Regions from separate parts of the Homo sapiens genome. Here region 2 is linked to region 1. The links come from fine-mapping of genetic effects on plasma protein levels. A gene starts in region 1. The other region holds a variant in brackets. All regions are shown on one strand. Distances are from middle to middle.

Region 1 (12,158 bases):
ATTCCACCGTTGTGATTTGTTTCTGCCCCACCCTAACTGATCAGTTGACCTTGTGACATTCCTTCTCCTGGACAATGAGTCTCAGAAGCTCCTCACTGGCCACCTTGTGACCCCTGCCCGCAAGAGAAAAACCCCCTTTAACTGTAATTTGCCACTACCTACCCAATCCTATAAAACTGCCCCACCCCTATCTCCCTTTGCAGACTCCTTTTGCGGACTCCGTCTGCCTGCACCCAGGTGATTAAAAAGCTTTATTGCTCACACAAAGCCTGTTTGGTGGTCTCTTCACAGGGATGTGTGTGACAGATAAAACCCCCTCTCTACTACAAATACAAAAAATTAGCTGGGCATGGTGGCCGGCACCTGTAATCCCAGCTACTCTGGAGGCTGAGGCAGGAGAATTACTTGAACCCAGAAGGCACGGGTTGCAGTGAGCCAGGATTGCTCCACTGCATTCCAGCCTGGGCAACAAGAGCAAAACTCTTGTCTCAGAAAAAAAAAAAAAAAAAAAAAAGAAAGAAAGAAAAAAGAAATCTATGAAAGCATAGGAGATTGTTTTCAAGGATATAGCGTCTATTCTAGGGTTTGCAGCACATCTTTGCCCTGTTGGAGAAATCATAATTTTCTGTAACCTTAGTATGCATGGCCAAATACAGTGCACTTGGTGCCAGATTTCTGCTATTTGACTCCTTCCTGTGAGCACTTAATACCCTCTCATAATGTGTTGATTCTAAACCACACACATTTATTGTTCCTCTTTTAGGTTGGCTGTCTCCAGGGCCCAGGCTGTTTCTAGGTAGCACTAGAGCCTCCACTTCAGTGGGTCTGGGGTGGGGCCTGATAATTTGCATTTCTAACAAGTACCCAAGTGGTACTGATCTAGGGACCAGACCACCGCTTTGAGAGCCACTGATCTAGTTCAAATGATCATGGTCTTAAGCTGATACCAATAAGAAAATCTATTGCTTTCCTGCTGCTGTCTTGCTCTCACTCAGCGTCAGCGCATGAGTTCCTGTTCTTCCCCACCCTTGGGCAGACATTTATGCTATTTGTGCTCAGATCTCTGCTTTACGGATTTGCCTAAATCTGCTAACTCCCAGCTGTGTCTCATTTCTGTCTAGCTTCTTTTACCCCCAGACAAAGTCTCACTCTGTTGCCCAAGCTGGAGTGCAGTGGTACGATCTCGACTCACTGCAACCTCCACCTCCCAGGTTCAAGAGATTCTACTGCCTCAGCCTCCCGAGCAACTGGGACTACAGGCACGTGCCACCATGCCTGGCTAACTTTTTTTTTTTTTGAGACAGAGTTTCACTCTTGTTGCCCAGGCTGGAGTGCAATGGCGCGATCTCTGGCTCACCGCAATCTCCACCTCCTGGGTTCAAGCAATTCTCCTGCCTCAGTCTCCTGAGCAGCTGGGATTACAGGCCACCACGCCCAGCTAATTTTGTATTTTTAGTAGAGACGGGGTTTCTCCATGTTGGTCAGGGTGGTCTCGAACTCCCAATCTCAGATGATCCGCCCGCCTCGGCCTCCCAAAGTGCTGGGATTACAGGTGTGAGCCACTGCGCCCGGCAATTTTTTTGTATTTTTAGTAGAGACGGGGTATCATTATGTTGGCCAGGCTGGTCTCGAACTCCTGACCTTTTGATCCGCCCATCTCGGCCTCCTGAAGTGCTGGGATTATAGGCGTGAGCCACCCACCGCACCTGGCCTGTCTAGCTTTATACTATGTCTTACTGAAGAATTCAGAACTTAATTTTTTTTAAGATGCAGTGTCATTTAGAAACATTTTCCTAATTGGCTTGAATGGAAATGGTACTTGATGATTCCTGGATGGCATCACTCCCTAACAGAAAGGGGTAGACAATGGCCTACTTGATGGAGAACTCTTGGAGGGCAGCTCTGACGGCTGTGCCATCTGCATCTTCCCAAGTTTAGGTTCTAGCACGAAGTCCCAGGCACTGCTCTAAGGGGTTTGTACATCCAAACACATTTAAATCCCCACTTTACGGATAAGGGAACTGGGTCTCAGGGAAATAGAGTCACTGCCCAAGTCCACAGAGCTTGAAAGTATGAGACCCAGATTTGGACTCAAGCAGTTTGACACCAAAGCCTAGGCTCCTACTCACTGTTATGCTAGCTAATATAGTGCTCAATAAGTTTATTCAGTGTTATGAAAGATCGTATGCCTCCTACTTTTTTAAACTTTTAAGTTCAGGGGTACCTGTGCAGGATGTGCAGGTTTGTTTTATAGGTAAACTTGCGTCATGGGGGTTTGTGGTACAGATTTGATCACTCAGGTATTAAACCTAGAACCCACTGGCTATTTTCCTGATCCACTCCCTCCTCCCACCCTCCAATCAGTCCCCGTGTGTGTTGTTCCCCTCTGTGTGTTCATGTGTTCTCATCATTTAGCTCCCACTTTCAAGTGAGAACATGTGGTATTTGGTTTTCTGTTGCTGCTTTAGTTTGCTGAGTATAGTGCATATGCCTCCTACTTAATAGAAAAAAAGTCAGCAGGTATGGTCAACTTCAACTTTCTTTCTCCTACAATCTATTAAACCTACGTACATCTATATCTTCACCATCTGCCTTTCCACCAGTCTCAGAAAAGAAGTTTCCCCTCTCTCAGTTCAAGGCCAGTTCTTCCCGTAGCCTTTGACCCCATCTCTTCCTGTTTTCTCTGGACTTCATCAGTTATTCTATTTGGGAACTTTAATCTCTTAATCTCTCCTCTCCTTACTTTCTCCTCCTCACCCATCATCCTGCTCAAGATCTAAGAAAATCCCCACTAGGGGACCCAGCATTGATCTTTCCAGCCCCTTTTCAGTCATTATCCTCTCTCTCCTCCCTTTCAAGCTTCTGGAAAGGACACTTCTCACCTCTTACCTCCCTCCCCTCCCATTCTTTTTTTTTTTTTGAGACGGAGTTTTGCTCTTGTCGCTCAGGCTGGCGTGCAGTGGCACGATCTCTACTCACTGCAATCCCTGCCTCCCGGGTTCAAGCAATTCTTCTGCCTCAGCCTCCCGAGTAGCTGGGATTACAGGCGCCTGCCACCACACCCTGCTAATTTTTGTATTTTTAGTAGAGACGGGGTTTCACCATGTTGGCCAGGATGGTCTCGAACTCCTGACCTCGTGATCGCCTGCCTTGGCCTCCCAAAGTGCTGGGATTACAGGTGTGAGCCACCACGCCTGGCCTCCCATTCTTGTCTCAACATGTTACAATCTGATTTCTACCCTCACTATGCTATTTAAACTTCACTAAGTTCACCAGTACATTCCCAATTGCTAAATGTTTCCACGTTTTATTTACTGACATTCTATGCTGCACTTGATTGTTCTCTACCCCTTCAACTCCTCATTCACTTGGCTTCCTGGGGTTGGCTCTGCCCTCAGCACTCTACCAACTCTCCCTGTGAGAGAGACCCATCCACTCTCCTTGATTCAGGTGACCACCTTTCTTAAAGGGAAATCTTTTTTTTTTTTTTTTTTTTTTTTTTTTTTGTAGAGACAGGATTTCACCATGTTGGTCATGCTGGTCTCAAACTCCTGACTTCAGGTGATCCTCCCACCTCAGCCTCCCAAAGTGCTGGGATTATAGGCATGAGCCACTGCACCGGGCCCATGAAGGGAAATCTTATCTGGGATCTTAGCAGAACATTATCTAAGGGGGACGGGTAATATCCGTATAGGTTCTTAGCTACCTGAGGGCAAAACTGTTTTATGCACAGCCTGCCACAGCAGACAAACAATAGATATCTGTTGAACAAATTACCCCTTATAAACTTTGCTTCACAGATGTCTAAGCAATTTCTGTAGATGTGTCCAAATGTTTATAGAAATATTGTAAACGTTGTACAGAGTGTTACAGATGTTCAGAGAAGGAACTATCATTTTTGGCTTGGTAAGAATTTTTGGCAGTGATAGCACTTGAGCTGGAAATAGTTTAAGTAAAGTCCAGGGGCAGGAAAGGGAGGGGAGGAGTAGTAACATTCAACTCCCATGCCAGAGACTGGAGAATAGCAACTGGAGGGACTCTGTGGAAACATCAAGTTTGAATAAGGGAATAGAAGATTCAACTAAAAAGATAAGTAGGAGGCCGGGCACGGTAGCTCACACCTGTAATCCCAGCACTTTGGGAGTCCGAGGCTGGCGGATCACCTGAGGTCAGGAATTGGAGACCAGCTTGGCCAACATGGTGAAACCCCGTCTCTACTAAAAAAACACAAAAATTAGCCAGCTATGGTGGCATGCACCTGTAATCCCAGCTACTCGGGAGGCTGAGGCAGGAGAATGGCTTGAACCCAGGAGGCGCAGGTTGCAGTGAGCAGAGATGGCGCCACTGCACTCCAGCCTGGGCAACAGAGAGAGACTCCATCTCGAAAAAACAAAAAAGATAGGTAGGAAATACACATGAGGAGGGCCTGAAGTCTAAGCTAAGGAGTGCTGGGATTACTCCATAGGCAGAGAGGAGCCTAGACTACACAGGTAGGTGTTCAGTCGTCCTATGTGGTGGCAAAGCAGCTGCTGGATTGGAGTGTCACACTGGCGGTGAACAGACCGTGGGACACGCCAGTGAGCAAAATGAGAGGCTGACACAGGGCAACGGCACTGAAATGACAAGAAAACAGCTGTAGTACTTGACAGATTTCATTGAATCTAATAAATCTGTATGTATGTACATATATATAGACACACACAAATTTTAACTTGTTATTAATCTTTATAGAGACAGTGTCTCACTCTGTTGCCCAGGCTGGAGTGCGGTGGCATGATTAGAACTGACTGTAACCTTGAACTCATGGGCTCAAGCGATCCTCCTGCCTTGGCTTCCCAAAACCCTGGAATTAACAGATGTGAGCCACCACACTGGCCAAATTTTAACATCTTTGTTATTGAAATACAAGTGTTTAATTTGCCGGCATATTTTTTAACAATACATAAAATACTACCGCATCTTAAAGTTGATGTTATCTTAGATTCAATGAAATATGATAACTGGATGTGAATAAGAAGGAATTCAAAAGCAAAGTTTCAAACCCGAGTGACTGGAAGGGAGTTTCCTTGAGCCCCACAGGAGAGTCTAACCAAATCTTCTATTTGAGCAATGATCCCCAGACAATACTGCTCTCCCACCTTCCCCACTTGAACTTATTAATAAGAGGAAGTAGTTATTAATGACAACTTTAATATGAACATGTGCTTAACCCTCAAGAAATTGTCACAACTGAAAGACGGGAGCAAGCTGACACTGCAAGGAACACATGATGCTTTGGAATGGGTGGCCTGCGTATTCAAACACATCAAAGCAGCAGTTACTTGAACAATCGGAACTTCTTCAAATACTGGCCCACTTCTTCCTTGGGGTAGGGCCGGAGAGCAATACAAGTGGCGATATTCTCTGGTTGCTCAAGCCACAGCATGTGGTCAATGTTCTTCTGTTGCAGGGTCTCGGCCAGCTCCTTTAGGGTGGTCTCATCTGGGGCCTAAAGGAGAAGAACACAGAACACAAACTGAATAGCCCACTTAGGAAGTGTCAAAAGGCCAAAAAAGGTTTCGGGAGTCCTCTTGCCTGAAAGTGGAGTAACAGCTTTACCAAGGAGGGAGCTGCAGAGCAATGATGTCATTCCGTGGTGCACTGGGGAGGGGAGAGAGGCTTCATATTCCAGTTTAGAAAATGGAGATTTGTATCTTCCCTTGTGAGATGTTGTATGCCCAACACACACATGTGTAATGTGTAATTCTGCTCTATACATTTTCCAGCTCTCCTATGGCTGGCGCCCATAATTTTAAGTGCCTCTGACTTTAAGAGCTGCCTAGTGGAAGTTTTTTTTTTTTTTTCTTTTGAGACAGAGTCTTGCTCTGTCGCCTGGGCTAGAGTGCAGTGGCACGATTATCAGCTCACTGCAGTCTCTGGCTCCCGAGTTCAAGCAATTCTCCTGCCTCAGCCTCCCGAGTAGCTGGGATTACAGGCGCACACCACTACACCTGGCTAATTTTTGTATTTTTAGTAGAGACGGGGTTTCACCATGTTGCCCAGGCTGGTCTGGAGCTCCTGACCTCAAGCAATCCACCCACCTAAGCCTCCCAAAGTGCTAGGATTACAGGAGTGAGCCACCATGCCCGGCCCCTAGTGGAAGGATTTCTAAAAGCACATCCACTTCCACTTTCCTCCACCCCTCCCACTCTACCTCACTGAAACCTAGAGGGGTTTTCCTTCTGCTGGGATGGCTCCCACTTGTTTATTAAAGGGAGAGTACAATATTCTCTAACATCCTTCTGAAATTGTTTCTGGGTCATCCTTACTGCCAATTCACCCATGCTGAATCCCATTCCAGGAAGTATTAAAACGATCACTCAGAAAATTATTATTTTTGTGTTATTTTGCATAAAGTTTATCTCTTACCTATGAAGGCAGAAGCCACTAAGCTACTCAGAGGCTTGTTTTAATAAATTAGAGAATGCCAGTATTGCGACTCTTAACCTGCTGAGTCCTTCTGGCAGAGCTCTGCTGGAGGACTCATCAGCTTCTTCAGCCTCGGGCAGCAGCAGAGCATAGTGAGATACAGTGAGGCTCTGGAATCAGACTACTGGACTCCAAACTCTTGCTGACTGTGTGATCGTGGATAAGTTAGGTGACTTCGCTGGCCTCTTCGTCCCTTTATAAAACAGGAATAATGCTTCCTAATGGGGATCAATGAAATCAGGCTTGGACCTGTGCCTGGCACACACTAAGCACTCAATAAATGTAGTTAATCCTGGTATTTTCTTATATTTTATTGGCCCTTCTGACTACAGCGGCACCTCAATGTAATCAGTAGCGACTCCTAAGTCCCTTTCTTGAGTCATGACTAACAACTAAGAATCATGAGACCCTCTTTTAAACTCAGGGGAGTCACTTAATCCCTGTAGGCTTCAGAGAGTTTCACCTGCGACAAGAGGAGTCTAACCTGATTTCTTGAGACCTCTTACTAGGAAGAAAATCTAAGTGAAAAGCCAGCAGCTTCTGTTCTGCCTACACAGATTCTCAAGGCATTTTTCCTACAGGTTACCGCTTGATGTTTCACTATCCAGCAGCAATTTTTCTCTTGAAAGATAATCTATCTTTGTCAGTTACCCATGAAGGGATTACTCCACCCCTCCACCTGAGTTCTGGCTTAAAGCCGTTTTTCCTTATTATAAAAAGCCGTTTATTATTAAAGCCGTTTTTCCTTATTATAAAATATGTGCTTAAGGTAGAAAATTTTAAAAATACAGATTAAGCATTAGGAAATAACCAAAATCTCACCATGCACTACTTAATATGTAGATGTATTTCTTTAGTTTTTCCTTTCAAAGTCTGGATCATTCTGTATATATAGTTCAGTTAGCTTCGCATCATGAGCACTCTTCCCGACCACTAAATATGCTTCAAAACCATAAGGGCTCCCATGAATATCCTTGTGCAAAGCTCTTTGGGTGCATCTGATTATTTTCTTAGGCTACATCTCTAGCAGCAGGATAGAGAGTCAAAGGGTAAGGGTGAGATTTGTTTGGTCATCTGCAAACAGAACCTGACTGCTATTTTAAAAGGTGTACCGATTTACACACCTGGTGCCTGGTCTAGCTGAAGCTAGGTTCAATTTATACTAACGTTTTTAGTATTTATTTTCAAATAATTTGGCGTCCTACCCAGGTAAATACTCAGTTTGACTTCACTTTGCACTGTCCCTTCGGGCTCGGTTTTGCAGGAGGACAGCACTTTGGGGCATGGCTTTAAAAAGTCGGCCAGTGCACAGGCGGAACAGCGGGGACACAGGAGCCACCACTTTACCGCGAGCCCAGCAGGGGGCGGAGGACTGCTGTCCACTCTTCACACAGTCAGGCCCTTCCCAAGGGCGCACCTCCAGGGAAACAGCTCCAGTCTAAATGTTAACGATCACCCCAACTCCCGCCGCACCCACTCCCCGCAGCCAGGCCTTCGGACCGAAGACCACACCCACTTCCGCCCTCGATGTCTCAGCACCTCCCCCTCCGCCCGAGTGCCTCACCTCGAGGACCACTTTGCGCATGCGCCCCAGCTCTTGGAGGTAAGCGGCTGTGTGCGGGTGGTCGCGGTGAGTGTGCAAGGCCGCGGTGGCCGCGTGACAAGCCTGCGCTACCAGTGCGCCCGCCGGCCAGGAGAACGGAGCTTGTGATAGATCCTTTCGTAACACCAAGTATTGTACCAGGACCTGCGGCTCCGCCCCAGAGGCCGCCATCTTCCTGACCACCCGAAAGGCCGGACCTACTCCCCGGTGCATCTTGGGATCAGGGCGGGGCCCTGAGCGCCGCCATGCTTTTGTACGGCAGGATCGCAAAGCACGCCGGGACCGGTTGGTTTGGTTTTGAAGACGTGGATGGCGGGAATTCTCGCTTCTGGCCTGGGTGAGCTAGAAGGGAGAAGGTAGGGGAAAGACCCATTGTCGGACCGGACCGTGGCCAGGGTGGCGGGCTGAACGGCCTTCTTAAAACTCCTTCCGTGGCCGGGAAGCCCGCTGGACCAGAGTAGCCGTGGCCTCGGGAGCGCGCCGGGGCCGCGGGATGGGCGCGGGGGTGGGCATGGACTCTGCTGGCTCGGACGATGGGAGAGGGCGGGCGGCTCAGGAAAGGGGATCCTAGCCGTGACATTTGTGTCATCCGCGGCCCAGGGGTTGTGCCTGAGTGGTGTGTGCCCTGCCGTCTGGGTTTGAATGGGACTAGATGTGATGTGACTGTTGCCATTTTTCTTTTATTAGCAAGGACATTGGAGTCCCTATCACCGGTTGCCTAGACAACTTCATGGGAAGGCCCTTGGGAATCTGAGATGGAGCAGGCGAACCCTTTACGTCCAGATGGCGAGTCCAAAGGAGGTATTCAGAGGGTCGCCGCCTCCTTCCTGCTGCTGCCCAAAGATGACCCGCAGGCTGAGAGAGCCCTTTCCTCCTGGAACTGACGTGGGACCTGGCCTGTTTGGGAGCAGAATAGTGAAAGGAACTAACATTGAAGACAAAGGGACAGGCAGCCAAGATTATTCGAGGAGGAAAAATGGCTTCGTTTCTAGGCTCCCACCCCTTTTGAAACGGATAAGTTGCATCCATCATATGCTCAGTGTTTATATTCTGAACTGCGGTTCTAGCCAGGGAGGTCCCTTTCCTCTCCCCGGATTTTTTGGGCCATGTATGCATTACTCTTGAGGGAGGGCCAGTGTAGGGCAGTGACTTTAGTGTTGGCTAGAACTGGTTTTGAGTGTTGGCTCTGCCATGATAAATATTGTGACCTTAGGCAAGTCACTTTATTCTCTGCCTCTGTTTCTTCATCTGGAAAATGGAGGTGAAAATAGCACTGTAGTTGTGGTTGTGGAAAAAGTATTTCTTTTGTGGTGGAAAAGTATTGAACTCAGACTTTTCAAGTGAAGCATTTAGCACATGTCTAATATATAGGAAATATTCAATGAAAGGCTTAATTCTTTACATACTTTGTGTCTTAAAATGTAGAAGGTGTTTAAAGAATGCTTGTTAGAGTTGCTTAGAATTACGAAACTATTACTTTTACTTAGTCCTTAGTCAATCCTTTGGAAACTGAGATTTGCGTTTGAATTTCTGTCCAGGAGTAAGTTGCTTTCTTCTTTAGTGCCTAGTAATATTTGTGGACAGTTCTGGTTTTGTGTGACTTTATGTTCTTTGCTACTAATACTTTTTAGAACTTTGAAATACTTACTCAAGCCTGATGCCTAAATCCAAAGGGTTCTACGTTAGTACTTTGGGAAAGCTTGCCATAAAACCTAACTTAAATTACAGTTTTAAAAAGAATTTCTGAGCGCGTCAGTGAATTTGGTTATCCTATTTTTCTCTGGGTCATCATTATCATTGATAACAGAGAAGTAACTATATTCAGCCTAAGATGACTTAAGCTGAGACTTTAGATAATAAAAGTATATGGGGTAAGATTTATTGTTACTTTAAGACTAAAAATAAGTTTGGTGACTTTATGTAGTGGAAACATGCTACACTCAGGAGTAACCTGTTCTCTAGTCCAGGCCTTATTTCATTTCTGTTAAAGTAAGTGATGAGGTGGAAGTTTTGGATTATCAAGAGACTTAGACCAGTCTCCTTATTCTCTACCCAAAACAATATTTAAACACTTAGCTGTTACCCATACTGGTTTTATCCCTCTGCTTGTTTGATTTCAGTTTTTTGCTTATTATTTGAATTCTCCCCACTCATTTGAGAAGGAAGGACATGGAGTTGTAGTTGCAACCAGATGATTTATTCAAATAGGCAGGGATTTTGACTTTTTTTGGGACAAAGCTGACTGGCTAGGATGAGATGCAATCATAACTTCCAAGGTAAAGCAGGCCCAGCAGATACACTCCCTCTTTTCTGTAGTAGCAACGCTAAACAACAACGCTACCCCCTTGGTGTAGAGGGAATCAGGTCGGTAAAGAAGCTGGGCAGGTTTGAGAGCCTGAGAAGAGGGCTGTGTGGAAGTGCCTAGAGAAGGAGCAGCATGATACTGTTTTGAACACCTACTTATCTCAGAAACTTTGGGAATATTGATATCTACTGTTTTAGTAATATAGAATTTCCATAAAGTAGAATTTGGTGAGGCGTCTCCTCTACCACCCTAAATTATTCTATGTGTGCGTGCTTTTCAGATCACCTCCTGGTTGGACATTAATTTTTGTAAGCTCCGTGAGGACAGGGACTTCGTTTTGCCACCACAGTATGAATAACTTCCAGCACGGTCCTTGGTCCATAGTAAATTCTCAATGCATAGTTGTTGGATAAATAGAGATTGGTGAATAAAGCAGTTAATCACGTGCTAATTATTAGGACTAATTTATTTAATTAGAATTTTGGTTTCTCACGATTATTATTGCGGTAATGTGGGTTTTTCTGTGGACATGAGCCAAGTGAATGTAATCTCCAAGAGTGTCATGCCTGGTTGTCCGTGTTTCGGTAAACATTTCCGGAGTGTTGGCCGGGCGCGGTGGCTCACACCTGTAATCCCAGCACTTTGGGAGGCCAAAGCGGGTGGATCACAAGGTCAGGAGTTCAAGACCAGTCTGGCTAACATAGTGAAACCCCATCTCTACTAAAAATACAAAAATTAGCCGGGCATCGTGGTGCATGCCTGTAGTCCCAGCTAATTGGGAGGCTGAAGCAGGAGAATTGCTTGAACCTGGGAGGTAGAGGTTGCAGTGAGCTGAGATCGCGCCACTGCACTCCAGCTTGGGCAACAGAGTGAGATTTCGTCTCAGAAAAAAATAACCATTTCCGGAGTGTTTACCATGTGTAAACACTTTGTGCTAGGGTTAAGGGATCCATGGGTGAACACAAATGCACACGGTCCCTGATTTTGGAACTTTAAGGTTCAGTGGAAAAGATAAGCAAATCAAATAATCACACTAATGAATATACAATTAAAACTATAGTGGCCGGGTGCGGTGGCTCACGCCTGTAATCCTAGCACTTTGGGAAGCCGAGGTGGGAGGATCGCTTGAGCTTAGGAGTTTGAGACCAGCCTGGGAAACATAGTGAGACCCCATCTCTTTATTTAAAAAACAAAAACAAAAAAACTATAGTATTGTCTCAGAAGGATCTTTGAGAGCTTATGAGCTGGCACCTGACCTTGTTCTGAAGGTGCTACAAAGGTTTCCCTGAGGAAATGCTGCTTGCATTGAGTGCTAACGAGCTAGAGTAGCTGCAGGTGAAGGTGGATAAGGGGCGGCTGTGGAAGAGCCTTTGGTGTGTGTGTTGGGGGTGGGGGGATCAGGTCAGTAAAGACGCTGGGCGGGTTTGAGAGCCTGAGAGGAGGCCTGTGTGGAAATGCCTAGAGAAGGAGCAGCATGATACTGATGAGGGTAAGAGAGATCCAGAGGCCAGTAGGCCTCGTAGGCAGTGTGAAGTCATCGAAAGGCTTTAGCCAGCTGGATGACACGATCCAGTTTAGATTTTGAAATATGGCTTCAGTGTATGGGCCACCTAGGAAACTTGTAATAGGCCAGAAATGGTAGTAGCTTGAACTACAATGGTGGCATTGCAGATGGGGAAAATGGAAATATTTTAGAGATACTAGGAATGTATATTCAATAGGATCTGGTAATGGATTGGGACTGGGTCAGGGAGAAGGTGTGAGGAAGAAAGTACTGGTTTA
Region 2 (12,158 bases), 300 kb before region 1:
TAACTTCACAAATATCATTTTTTAATTGTTAAAAAGAAATTTATAAGATGCTCCAAATGGAACTCTATGAATATGTAATACGTACTTCTACTTAATAACACATGCTGGAAGATAGTAACCTTTAGCAGAGCCAAGATACAGTTTAAATACAGCAGAATTTTGATAGACTCAAAGTAAATCTTAGCTGTGTGTAAAGGGGTCAATGTCCAGCCTGGACTGCAAAGTAGACTGAGAATTGTGTTGTTCGGAAACAATAAAGTTAAGATAGGTATACAATGCTATGTCCAGAAACCCCCCACCCAAAGCACTGCACCTGGGTCGTAAATTGGGGCTGCTTCATTTTTACTGATATAATTGCCAACACCAAAGTTTGTGATGTCTATGGTTTTAGAGAACAATGTTTCTGAGTGAGTAGGAAAGCTGTAGTCACTTGAAGAAGGGGGTTATTATGATACTTTACAGCTGCAGCACGTCCTTAGGAGACATTGCATCCTGTTAACTTTGCAGCTGACTTTATCTGTGCCTATTTTTCTAGCCTGATGAACAGTTGAGCTGATTTTTTACCTTCTCAGTGTGAGCTAATATTTACTTTCTCATGGGCAATCCTAAATGTCAAATACTGTATTGAGTGCTTTACATACATTATTTCATTTAATCTTAGCAACAATCCTTTGAGGCAAGTGCTAGCATCCTATTTTACAGATGGGGACACTGAGTCTTGGAGATGTTGAAGTGGTTTGGCCCAGGTTTCATACAGCTAGTAAGTGACAAACCCATTTCAAACCTGGGTCTCCCTAACTCTAAACCTAGTCTTCTTAACCTCTATCCTTTAAGCAGATGTAGAAATTAAAGATTATTCAAAGTGAAATGGGTAAAATACAGAGCTGGTTATGGGCAAGTGGCAGGCTCATGCACTATGGCTAGGACCACAGATTGAAACAATTTTCTGGAGGCCAGTTTGGTAAATAATGTAGTAAAAAAATTAACATGTACCCTTTGAGCCAACAATTAATCTTCTAGAAATTTAAAGAAAATAATTTCTAAACTGCACGGAGGCATGCATTAGAATTACAGCATGATTTACAAAAATATACAAACAAAAATACAGACAATGTAAACATTTTTAGTAAGGAATTAAATGGCTAAACAGATACACAATGCAAGAGTATTTAACTATTAGGATGAAAATACATTGTACAGTAAAAGGCACCAGATTACTGATGAGCATTTATCATGTGATTTTATTTTATTTATTTTATTTTTTTGAGATGGAGTCTCACTCTGTTGCCCAGGCTGGAGTGCAGTGAGGCGATCTTGGCTCACTGCAGCTTCTGCCTCCTGGGTTCAAATGATTCTCCTGCCTCAGCCTCCTGAGTAGCTGGGATTACAGGCACCCACCACCACACTGAGTAGAGACAGAGTTTCACAATGTTGGCCAGGCTGGTCTTGAACTCCTGACCTCAGGTGATTCGCCTGTCTCGGCCTCCCAAAGTGCTGGGATTACAGGCGTGATTTTATTTTTATGTAAAATTGACTACATATAGTGTATTTATATGTGCAAATATATATAGAGAAAGGTGTGGAAACATGTTTACTATGTTTCTCTCTGGCTTGAAAAAGTTTATTTTTAAACTTTTTGTGCTGTTCTTTATTGACTGAATATTTTGTGAGTCTGTATCAATTATTATAAAACAAAAAACTATTTGAAAAAAAGAATGTCAAAGTTAAATCAATTCTTGCCTCAGTAACTGGAGTAATTTCATGCACACTAGCCATATATTTTATAGAACTGGAAATCTATTATGCTCTGGAGAAAATCCAACAGGTATGTTCTAGATTTTGCCCGTAGAACTAGGCTGTTTCTAGTCCACCAAAGGATTATATTAATTTATGGAAACAATAGGGTTTGGACTAAAACCAGTTCTATCTGGGCTATAAGAGTTAAATGTTGTCTTACATTTTTATTTATAAATATCTTCAAAGCATTTTCATTTAATTGGAGTTAGTCTTCCTTGTTGATTGGCATTGTATTTTGGGAGTAAATAAATTTTAAATAGCTAAGGTAAATGGATTTTAGAGAGGCTACTTGTACAGTCACGAAGTAAATCTAATGAATCTTTTGGCCCTATATTTAGGGTTGCTCGGGTGGATTAGTAAAATGGGCCTGTTTAGTAAAAGTAGATGGAGTCTGAGAGAAGTTGAGTATGACCAGAGAAAAGATTACCAATTGGAGACATAAAAGGGTGTTATAACTGCTTTGACAAGTGATTATGACTTGTAGAGGAAGGAGAAAAAAGTCAAAGAGTTATTATTTAAGAAACATTACCAGGCGCAGTGGCTCATGACTGTAATCCCAGCACTTTGGGAGGCCGAGGCTGGTGGATAACCTGAGGTCAGGAGTTCAAGACCAGCCTGGCCAACACGGCGAAACCCTGTCTCTACTAAAAATACAAAAAATTAGCCGGGCGTGGTGGCGGGTGCCTGTAATCCCAGCTACTCGGGAGGCTGAGGCAGGAGAATCACTTGAACCCAGGAGGCAGAGGCTGCAGTGAGCTGAGATCGCGCCACTGCACTCCAGCCTGGGCGACAAGAGCGAGACTCTGTTTCAACAACAACAAAAAAGAAACAGTACCATTCTAGAAAAGAACTCTCTCTTTAGCATACATGGATGGTTATGGCAATATAAATTAACACCTAAATAATTTGTCATTCAACAAAATCTTAGCACTGTGTGTCTTGAGGATATTTTAAAGTTAATTACGACCCCGGGCTGCAGAGTGGGAGATTGGAAGAAGGAAATTCAGGAGTTGTTTTGTTAACAGTTGAAGCTGTGGAAATAAACAGTCAACCGAAGCCAGAGGAAAGGAAGGAAAAAAATAAAACCTTGAGGATACCAACATTTTTTATGGCCCCGTAAAAAAGGAGCAGCCCAAGAAAAGTGCAAACGAAGGCAAGTTCAGAAATCAGGTAGAGAGACTCATATTGAAGACAAGGGAGGAGAGTTTCAAAAAGGAGGAGTTAGCAGTATCACGTGCTGTAGAAAGGCCACACGACAGTAGGACTGAAGTGGCCACTAGATTTGGCCTTCAGCACTTACTAGAGTCTAGTGGAGACAGGAGTACCTTGCACAAGTGGCTCATTTGTTGGCACCAGAGGCTAGAACAAGGCACTTTCACACAGTCTGCATTGGACTAGATTGGGAAGTAGGCCCTACATTAGGGGACGAAACTCATGAGTGCCCGGGTATTTTCAGCTATTATTGGGGATAGGGACTCTGCGGGTGGCTAGAGGTACTGCTAAGCCAGAGCTCAGGAGATGCACCTAGGGCCCCAGTAGTAGGTCTCCGATAAGAATCAGGGGAATGAATATATAAATGAATGAATATATGAATGCATGTGGGGGTGTGGTCTAGCGATTACTTTATGAGCGTGACAAGGATAGGAAGAGGATGGTGAAAGCATACAGTAGTACCTGCCTGTGAAAGAAGCTGCCCGTCGACTCAGAGAGCTGCCACGGAGATTGGTGTTTTCAAGGCTGTCAGGTTCCCCAGTTGGGAGAAGGGTGGGAAGGGCTTAAGGATTTACAGAGATTGATTTAGGGGAGAACACACAGGAAGCGAAACAGCAGGAAACGCCGGGAGACAGCAGCAGCAGGACAGGATTGAGGAAGGGTAAGAGTGCGAAATGGGGTAAGAATAAAAGAAAGGAATGGACAGATGTATGCTTTACAAGGCACTTCCACGGCGAGTGACTCATTCATGCTTAGGACAACCCAGGGAGAGACATAGGTATATATTGCATTGCCAGCCTTTGGAATGCGGGATGCGGTCCAGATAAGGCCATCGCAGCTCAGAGAGGCTGTTCAGCCGCTGTTCGATTCCTCTGGTGACAAGAACACTCTACTTTTGGAAGTAGCACTTCTATTAGAGAAGTTAAAAAAAAAAAAAAAAGAAAAGGGAGATAAGAAGAAAGGTGTGGGCCCCTTGAGGGGAAAGATCTGTGAATGACAGACATTTTAGATAATTCATGGAATTGCAGAGCCAGAACGGGTCAGGCAGATCTTTTCATCTGTAAAACGAAGGGGGCAGACGATCTTCCTTTTCTCTTGTCTAATAGCCTGTGAAATCATCTAGGCAACCACCTCCCAATTTTACAGAATAAAAAACGAGGCCCGCGGGATATGTCTCGCTCAAAGTAACAGAACGCCCGAGTGGAGGGACAGGCCCGGAGCCGACTCCGCCCCGTCCGCAGGGCCTCTCGCCGCTCCGACACCTTCCCAGAAAGATAAAGAACAGCGGGAGGCGGCAGGCCCGGCGGCCTAGCTGCGAGCGCCCTGGTGTTCGAGGCCGCTTCCCGGCAGCAGTGGGAGGAACGCCCCGAGGGGAGGGCAGGAGAGGGGCGGGGAGGAGTTGAGACGGGCGGGGAAGAGTTCGGGCCTCCTTTCCCACACTTCGTTAGGACGCCGGCTGGGGCGGGCCGGCAGAGGGCGCGGGGCGGTTCCTCGCTCGGCGGGCCCGGCAGGCCCGGCGGGCTGGGGGCGCGCTGTCCCGGGCGCACTGTCGGAGCTCGCGGGCACCGGGTCGCGGCGGCCCGGGCGGCCGGAGCCGGCAGGGGAAGTGCGGCGGGCGGGCAGGCGGGCGGCCGGGAACGGGCGGGGCGGGGCGGGGCGCGAAGGGGGCGGTGCCGCGAGCGGGGGGCGGTGGCGGCGGCGGCGGTGGCGGCCGAGGAGGAGAACATGGCGGCCGCGGAGAGCGGCTGAAATGCCTGTTCTTCAGGCCGGGCGAGCGGGAGTCTGACGCGATTTGCTGAGCTCTGTCCTCCGACGGCTGCCTCGCGGCCTTGAGGGCCTCCGCCGCCTGTTCGCTGCTGCTCCCTCGAGCGGAGCCTGCGTCAGGTTCCCTCTGCATCCCCCTGCGGGGGGACCCCTGCTCCGGAGGAGGGGGCCGGAGAGCCGCGGCGCCGGGCCCGAGGAGCGGCGGAGGCCGGGGCGGCGCCGCCGCCACGGTCGCGGACGAGTGCGGCGCCGGTGAGCGGGGCCCAGAGGCGGCGGCGGCAGGTGAGTGGCGGGCTGCGGGTGCGGAGCCTCCCGGTGGGTGCAGCTGTCACGAGCCGCGCGGCCGCGGAGGCCCTAGGGGGCGGGGAGCAGCTGGCGCCCCTCCGCCCCCTGCTCTCCTTTCTCCCGCTCCATCCTCCTCCCACTTCCCCGAGTTCCCCTCGCGGCCCGGCGCGGCTGGAGGGGGCGGAGGTCGCAGCTGTCACGGGCACCAGCTGGGGGCTGCTCCCCGCCGGGGGAAATCGCTGCAGCAGCGACTTCTCTCCGCCTCTTTTCCAGTTGCCCTAGTTAGCGCGGAGAGGGCGAGCATCCGCGGAGGGGGTGCGAGCTGCGCGGCCGCCTGCCCGGCGTGGGGAGCGGGCGCCCCGGGCCGCCGCCGAGAGGGGGAGCCGGAAGTCGGCGCGGGCGCCCCTCGGCCCCGACGACGCCGTGACCTTGGCCGGCCCGCTCACCTCTCGGAATCTCGCCTGCCGGGACCGCGAAATGGGGGCGACCGCGGCGTCCCTCTCCGTC[G/T]GCGCAGCCCTCGACGGCGCTTGGGTTTGACCCCGGCGCGCTTGCTCGCCCCTTCTCCCGAGAAGGGGTTTCGGAGGTAGACATGGGATGGATACTGGACATGTTCCTGTCGCGGCCCGGGTTTGGTCCCCTTCCTGGGATTCAGCCGAAAGGGCCGAGGAAGGGAAGCAAACATGTTGACGAGGCGATTGGGAGGTGGGGTTGGTTAGTGGGCAGTGACAGAATTCGGGCCGCTCTCTAGTCCCTTGTAAAAGACCTGAAAAAATCGGACACCCAGGGTCTCCAGTCCTTACTACCCAGCTGTGGTGGCTGCTTTTTTATTTTATTTAAAAGCAGTTACCCCCATGGGTAGACACTGCCCAGTCTGACGACGTTAGAGGGAGACGGAGGGGTTGACAATACAGCCTGTGTGTGTGTGACAAGGACAGGCCACGGTGTTGTGTCCGGAGAGTTTCATGGGGAGGAAAACTTTAAGCTGGAGGATCTGTTAGCCTCTCATGCTTGGCCCTCCTCGTTTCTTGTAGAGGTGTTGAACAGGCAGGTGTCCTTGTGCAGAAGGTGACATTTTTTCTTCGGAGACGGTGAGTTTTTAATGTCGAGTGTGATGTTGGTGAGTAAAGGGTTCTTGAGTGAATTGCAGTCCCAGCACCCTCTGTGGATGCCAAGAGGAATCTCTGTGGCGATGATTTGTGAGGGCTGGTGCTTACATTTCAGTGATTAAGAAATCAAGTGTCTGCTTAAAACATTACTGCCGTGAAGCGTAGATTATATGATACAGTTGAGGGATGGATCTCAAGGGTTAAATTTGTTTGAGGTTTGTCTCCTCTTCTGGAATTGGTTGGAGGCTAGTCTCAAAAAAAAAGCAAACAAAACAACAACAATAACAACGAAAGTTGGCCAGAGGGGCCTCCTATGATGTTGTAGGAAGGGGGTCGGATTTCTTCATGTTGAGAATAATGTGAAAAGAAAGTATTTGCTTAGGTCTCTTGGATCTTCAACTAGAAATAGTTTTGGGTTAAAGGTAGCAGTGGGGTTTGATTCAGCTTAACAAATAGGCATTCCTTGAACTATTTGCCATAAATTAGATAAAATGGAAGTGTTTCTGTTTTATCTCCTGTACTTTGTGGAAAGGTCTAATTTGGTTTTGTGAACGAATGTCCGAAATGTTTTATATTTCTTCTTCAGACTCTATGCTTTGGGAACAGTGGGTCACAGAGAGGGTCTGAGTTGGGAATATATGGTTTAGAGAGAAAATAGAGGACTGCTGCTTATAAGAACAGGTGTTTAGTTTGATTTTTGTAGATATTTTCTACTGGTTATTTAACAACATTGAAGTTTGCTTTATAAGGTGCAAAACGTGAATTTTACGTAGCTTACACTTGATCTCTTCCTTATTTCTCTCAGAAAACCTGTAGGATTGTGCCTATTAAATTGCTTTTTGTGTGGTTTAAACCAAGAGAGTATTTTAGATCTGCAGTGGTTTTATTGGAAAAAAAAAAAAAGTGCTTGATGGAGCTAATGGTGATTGTTTCACTTAAACTAGGATTATATAGACAATGCTTCTTCCTGCCTCTTTCTGCGAACATTTGTTTTTGTTTCTCCCTCAATTCCAGGGTTTCATTTCTAGAAATCTGGGCTGCAAACAGAAGCAGCAGTTTGTATAATCCCAAGAACTTGCTTATGCCAGGAAGCTGTAAGGGTAGCATGAAGCGGGTGTGATGTAAAGACACTGCTACTACTTAAGACATTTAACTGTTGAGGGAGTCTAAGGTCAAACTTTAATTTTTGTTGAATTTCCTGTTTTCTGCTTATGTGTTAATCTTTTGGTGGGCAGAAGATTGGGTTGCTATGGTGCTAACTGGTGTATATTGTGAAAGTGCTGGCAACATTTCATGCTTTTACTCTATAGGGAAGGGTGGTAAACAAGCCTAAATAATTTAAAGATGTTGTTCTCAGAATGGAATGTTCTGTGCATGTCTTCTTGATCCTGCTAATCCAGTGAGCGGTCTTCACTAGGACTAAATGTTGAGTAAGTGATGAGGGTGGTATAGAGGTGCTGAAAGGTGGAGTGGTGGAGAGAGGGTATTGGGCATTTTCTTGAAATTCTTTTCCCCAATTCTGTATAGGGAATCTGTATACTAGACTGTGATTTATAATTGTTTTTCAAGGATGTTTTAGTTCTCCCTGCTTGGTTGTCATCAATTTCATATACCTCCTCTTAGATACTACCTCTGTTCCGTACTTTAGTTTGTCTTTTTTGCTGCGTCTCCCAAGGACTCCACATTGTTTGAATGTTATGTTGCATATCTTATGGAGTTGGCTGGCCTTAAGCCATGTGGCTTAACATAGTTTTCATTATAGGGCAGGTGTGGGAGGTCAATACAACGCACAACACGGAGTAAAATCTAAGTCATGGAGCATAGGAGATCCCCGGGACGCTCATGATTGTTTTGGCATTGGTTTTTGCCTTTTAAATATGATTATAACAGAAATTCTCAGAGGACCATCAGCTGCTTTCCTGGCAGAGGTCCAAAAATGTTTTGGAGGGTTCCATTTTGCATTACTTGCAAATATTGGATGCTGTGGTCGGTGTGGGCTCGGGTGAAATCCATGTGTTTCAGGAGGTGGATGTCAGAACACTGTATCTGATCTGGGCTGCAGAACCGTATAAATTTCTCCCTATCTTAGATTAACTTTCCTACCCATTTGGGAAGACTAGACTGTAGGAAAGGACTTTTTAAAATTGCTTCTTTCCCAGATTAGCAGTAGTTTAGCCGTTGGTGATTGGCAACTAAGGATAGGCCTCATGTTCTATTCTTAACATTGAAGATGAGGTCTAGTCATTTAAAACCTTTCCTTTTCTCTTTATATTTTAGTTAGACCTTGTGCCTTTCAACATTTGGTGTCAGAGGTCATAAAATGGCCTAGTGGCAACTAGGTACCAATGTTGGTTGCTTCATTTCATAAGGAGATGAAGGTGTTTTTTTTTTGTTTTTTTTTTTTAATAGCTTAGTTCTGGAAAATGGTTTGTGGGCTATAGTATTTGGATTAATGTATAGAAATGATTATTATATATTTCTGCAGGATACATGGCTGAATAAGGGAAATTATTATAAAACGCTGATACCAACATATAAGTCCAATTCCATAAGTTTAAGTAAAGTGAGTTGTATCCATGCTTCTTCCCCCATAACCCCATCTGCAACACAGAATTTTTGAGGCTCCTTGGAGTGATAGGCTTTTAGAAAAGCTTAGTATGGTTATCATATTTAAAAGATAAGTAGCTTATGCCAAAATAGAAGCTCTAGTCACTCGAGGAGTTATGGAAGACTCACCCTCATCTTGGATATATTTTGTTCTTACCACTCCCCGAGAGTATGTTTTAGTGTGTGGAGGGCAGGGATGTTTGGTTTTACTGAGTAGCCCTGACCTGACCATTAGGCACAGACAGGCCAGACTCATAAAAATAGGTGCAAGCACGGAAGCAAAACGCACCCATTATCAGGACCAGAATTCTAATTGTACTGGATTATCCAGTTTTTCCAGAGTGATGCTTCATTTTTGCCCTTTCAGCTTATAATTGTGGGGCAATTTTAAAGCATCTTTTAGAAAAGAAACTCTGACCAGACAGACAGAGGTGTCCTAGCTCTTCCAGATACTTAGGTTGATGTAGCCTTGAGCTGTTTAACCACACTAAACTTCAGTTTTTATATTTAAAATTGGAGTAACGTACTTGTCCTCATATTGTAATCTTTAAAATTATTAAATGTGTTTAGCATATGATTGGCACATAGACATTAATGACTAACAGGTATTTCATTAGCGAATTCATCACCAAATTCTCGCATTCTTTTCTTTGTAATTTCTCAAATTTTTTCCTTTATTTCTGGTTCTGCAATCTGGTCCTCCTGTCATTTGCACATGGAGTAATGGGAGTCACATTGACTCTGTGGGCCTGAGTTTCTTTATCATTAAATGAGCATGTTGGTCTAATTTCACATTTCTTCTTGTTTTAAAATTCTGTGATTTGTAGGTTTATAGCTGTTTGCTTGCATGCATTTACCTCTCTAATTTGTCCTACACATAATGCTGAAGAAATTCCCTTCTAAAAAAATTTTTTTATGTTATTGTTTTCAGAGGAGATTTTCTGTGGGCAAATTTATCAAATGTAAATCATTTAAACTGATTCTTTCATTTCCCATTCCAGAAAATTTGCTGTAGATGGCATATGCAGAAATACTTCGCAAACTGTAAAGTGCTACGCAATGAAGAAAGTATTATGATAATCATAGATATCTTGCGTCTTTGCTTTTACATGTTCCATTTTCTTCATTTAAATTGGATTTCCTTTATGTTCTCGTGACCTTCAAAAACAGCATCAAAGCTGGTATGTTTTCAAGAAAGCTTGATTTTTATCACTCCCTTAGCATTAGGTACTCTGTTCTGTATAATAAACTTCTCTTTCTCTCTCTTTCTTTTGAGAGAGATTCTCTTTTTAGTGTGTGTTGATTGGTTTTCCTAAACAGATTGGAAAACGCTTGAGATGCCAGGAACTACAACATTTAGAGTTAAAGAGCCTTAAATGATCATTTAGGACAGCCTTCTTAATATTACAGCTGAGCAGACTAAGTCCATGCAGATGTAGTTGGGAATAGGGTTTCTTTATGAGAGTTACTTTTTGTATTTAAAGTTACAATATTACAAAGATATTTTAAATAATAAGAATTCCTGTAAGCTTTTGAGTAATGTGTAAGCTAGGAGGAAAGGAGCATTTTTATTTTTTGACCAAAATATGACTCTCAAATATTGTAAAAAGGTATTAATTAGGAATTAATTAAGACCGTTTTCTCAAAAACTACAAAAGTACCTGTAGAAAAACGTCTGCTTTTCTTGTAAGGCCCTCATTCATAGTCAGCAAATATTTATTGAGTGTTGTCTCTGAGCCAGGTACTGTGCTAGCTCTACATATTACATTTTATAAATGAGGAAACAAGGCTCAGGGAAGTTAAGTGGCTGGCGTAAGATTGCACAGCTTATAGGTGTTAGGGATGACATTTGAGTTCAAGCCTACTGAGTGGAAATCATATTCATACCTTTCAATTGGCTTCTCTTCAAGCATGTTCGTCACACTTGGCCACATTATACTTTTTTTTTTTTCTTTCTGGACTTTCTTTCTCTTGAATACCTGTGTTGTGGAGACTCCTGCAGTCTTGTTCCTTTCTGATGACCCGGGAGCCATATATACCAGTTACTTGATGAAAATGTCACTTTAAGATTCTTGTGGGCTGGGCGTGGTGGCTCACATCTGTAATCCCAGCACTTTCAGAGACCAAGGCAGGCAGATCATGAGGTCAGGAGTTCGAGACCTGGCCAATATGGTGACACCCTGTCTCTACTAAAAATACAAAAAATAGCCGGGTGTGGTGGCGCAAGCCTGTAGTCCCAGCTACTCAGGAGGCTGAGGCAGAAGAATTGCTTGAACCAGGGAGGCGGAGGTTGCAGTGAGCCGAGATCGCGCCATTGCACTCCAGCCTGGGTGACAGAGCGAGACTCCATCTCAAAAAAAAAAAAAGATTCTTGTGCTGTTTCTGGTCTCACCTTTGTACTTCAGTAATGTTGATTCTTTGGTGCTTCTATCCAGGTAAGGTTATCTTTGGTTGGTTTTGGATTCTTAGCCATAAAATTCTGCCTCTCAAGTTTTGTTGGTATTTAAATAGCTAAAGCTTAGTGTGGTTTGGTTTTGTTTTTATTTTTTTGGAACAAATTGCTTGGTCATTCTCTGTGTTTCCACTTGTAATTTGAATGGTTGATTTTATCTTAAAATTCCAGTTTGCCTATATAGTTAAAACATTTACATACTTTTATTATCAAGCATAGATTTGATTATTTAACAGTAGGTATTCTATTGTGAATGTATGTATGTATATAAACATATCACATCATATTTGACCAGATAGTTGAAGGATGAAATGTCCTTGAGTTTTGAAAACATCTGTATGTGTAATATTGACTTTACTTTGGTGAATTTGTTTGTAAGAAACAAAAAGTTATTTGTTCTGCAATGTCTAATATCTCCCTCTCCATTCTAAATGGTACAGGTAGTCTGTAATTGAATTTCTAAGTAGCTACTCAATCATTCGGTCAAGACGTAGTTATATGAGTACGTACTTTGTTCAAGGTGCTGTGCTGTAAAAAGATAGTGGTTATTGGGAAATTAACCGATAAAATATAGATCCTGTTCTTAAGCAGATTATGACCTGAGAGAGGTGATAAGACAAACATACAAATACCTATAATAGTAATTGAATGTGATGAGTGCTGTGAGACAGGTCCTGAAACAGTGCTTTGAACATTCAGGGAGAGGGAATGATTATTGTATTTTCATTTGAGAAAAATCAGGGCAAGTTTTATGGAGGACTTGGTGGTAGACAAAAGCATTGAGGGCAGGGGATGATTTCTTTAAGAATAGAGACAAGGAGAACAGTATGTTCAGGAAGATTAAATAGCAAAGATGAAAAGACGGAGTAATGCAGGGGAAAGTGCAAGGAGTGTGGCATCAGCTGAAGTGGGAGAGGGAAGCATATCGTCTAGGT

Which allele goes with the higher level. Alleles are on the strand shown, and positions count from the first base shown. The strength of an association depends on the size of the effect and on how common the allele is.
For the plasma level of the protein whose gene starts at base 8,298 in region 1, G is the high allele of the variant in region 2 and T is the other (weak association).

Evidence for each region. PIP is the posterior inclusion probability: the model's chance that the variant is causal. Protein levels are from antibody-based Olink assays in UK Biobank. Linkage for the fine-mapping came from a reference panel and not from the study's own genotypes, which makes the PIPs less certain.
Region 2: its variant is fine-mapped to the plasma level of the PTRHD1 protein (UK Biobank, PIP above 0.99).

The regions. Positions count from the first base shown.
Region 1 is chr2:24,785,094-24,797,251 of GRCh38, forward strand. PTRHD1 (peptidyl-tRNA hydrolase domain containing 1) reads right to left here and starts at 8,298. Exons shown (of 2, transcript NM_001013663.2): 1 at 8,033-8,298; 2 at 4,635-5,488. The coding sequence starts at 8,284. The coding sequence ends at 5,318. It overlaps CENPO (centromere protein O), which reads left to right and starts at 8,332. Exons shown (of 8, transcript NM_001322101.2): 1 at 8,332-8,408; 2 at 8,759-8,872. The coding sequence starts at 8,827. It overlaps LOC105369164 (a long non-coding RNA gene), which reads right to left and starts at 7,982. Exons shown (of 3, transcript XR_939843.4): 1 at 7,674-7,982; 2 at 7,291-7,491; 3 at 5,499-6,686. RefSeq lists a silencer at 6,118-6,197 and an enhancer at 7,959-8,388.
Region 2 is chr2:24,486,548-24,498,705 of GRCh38, forward strand. NCOA1 (nuclear receptor coactivator 1) reads left to right here and starts at 4,707. Exons shown (of 23, transcript NM_003743.5): 1 at 4,707-5,055. RefSeq lists silencers at 4,360-4,699, 4,677-4,835, 4,990-5,479. The variant G/T (reference allele first, on the strand shown) is at 5,566.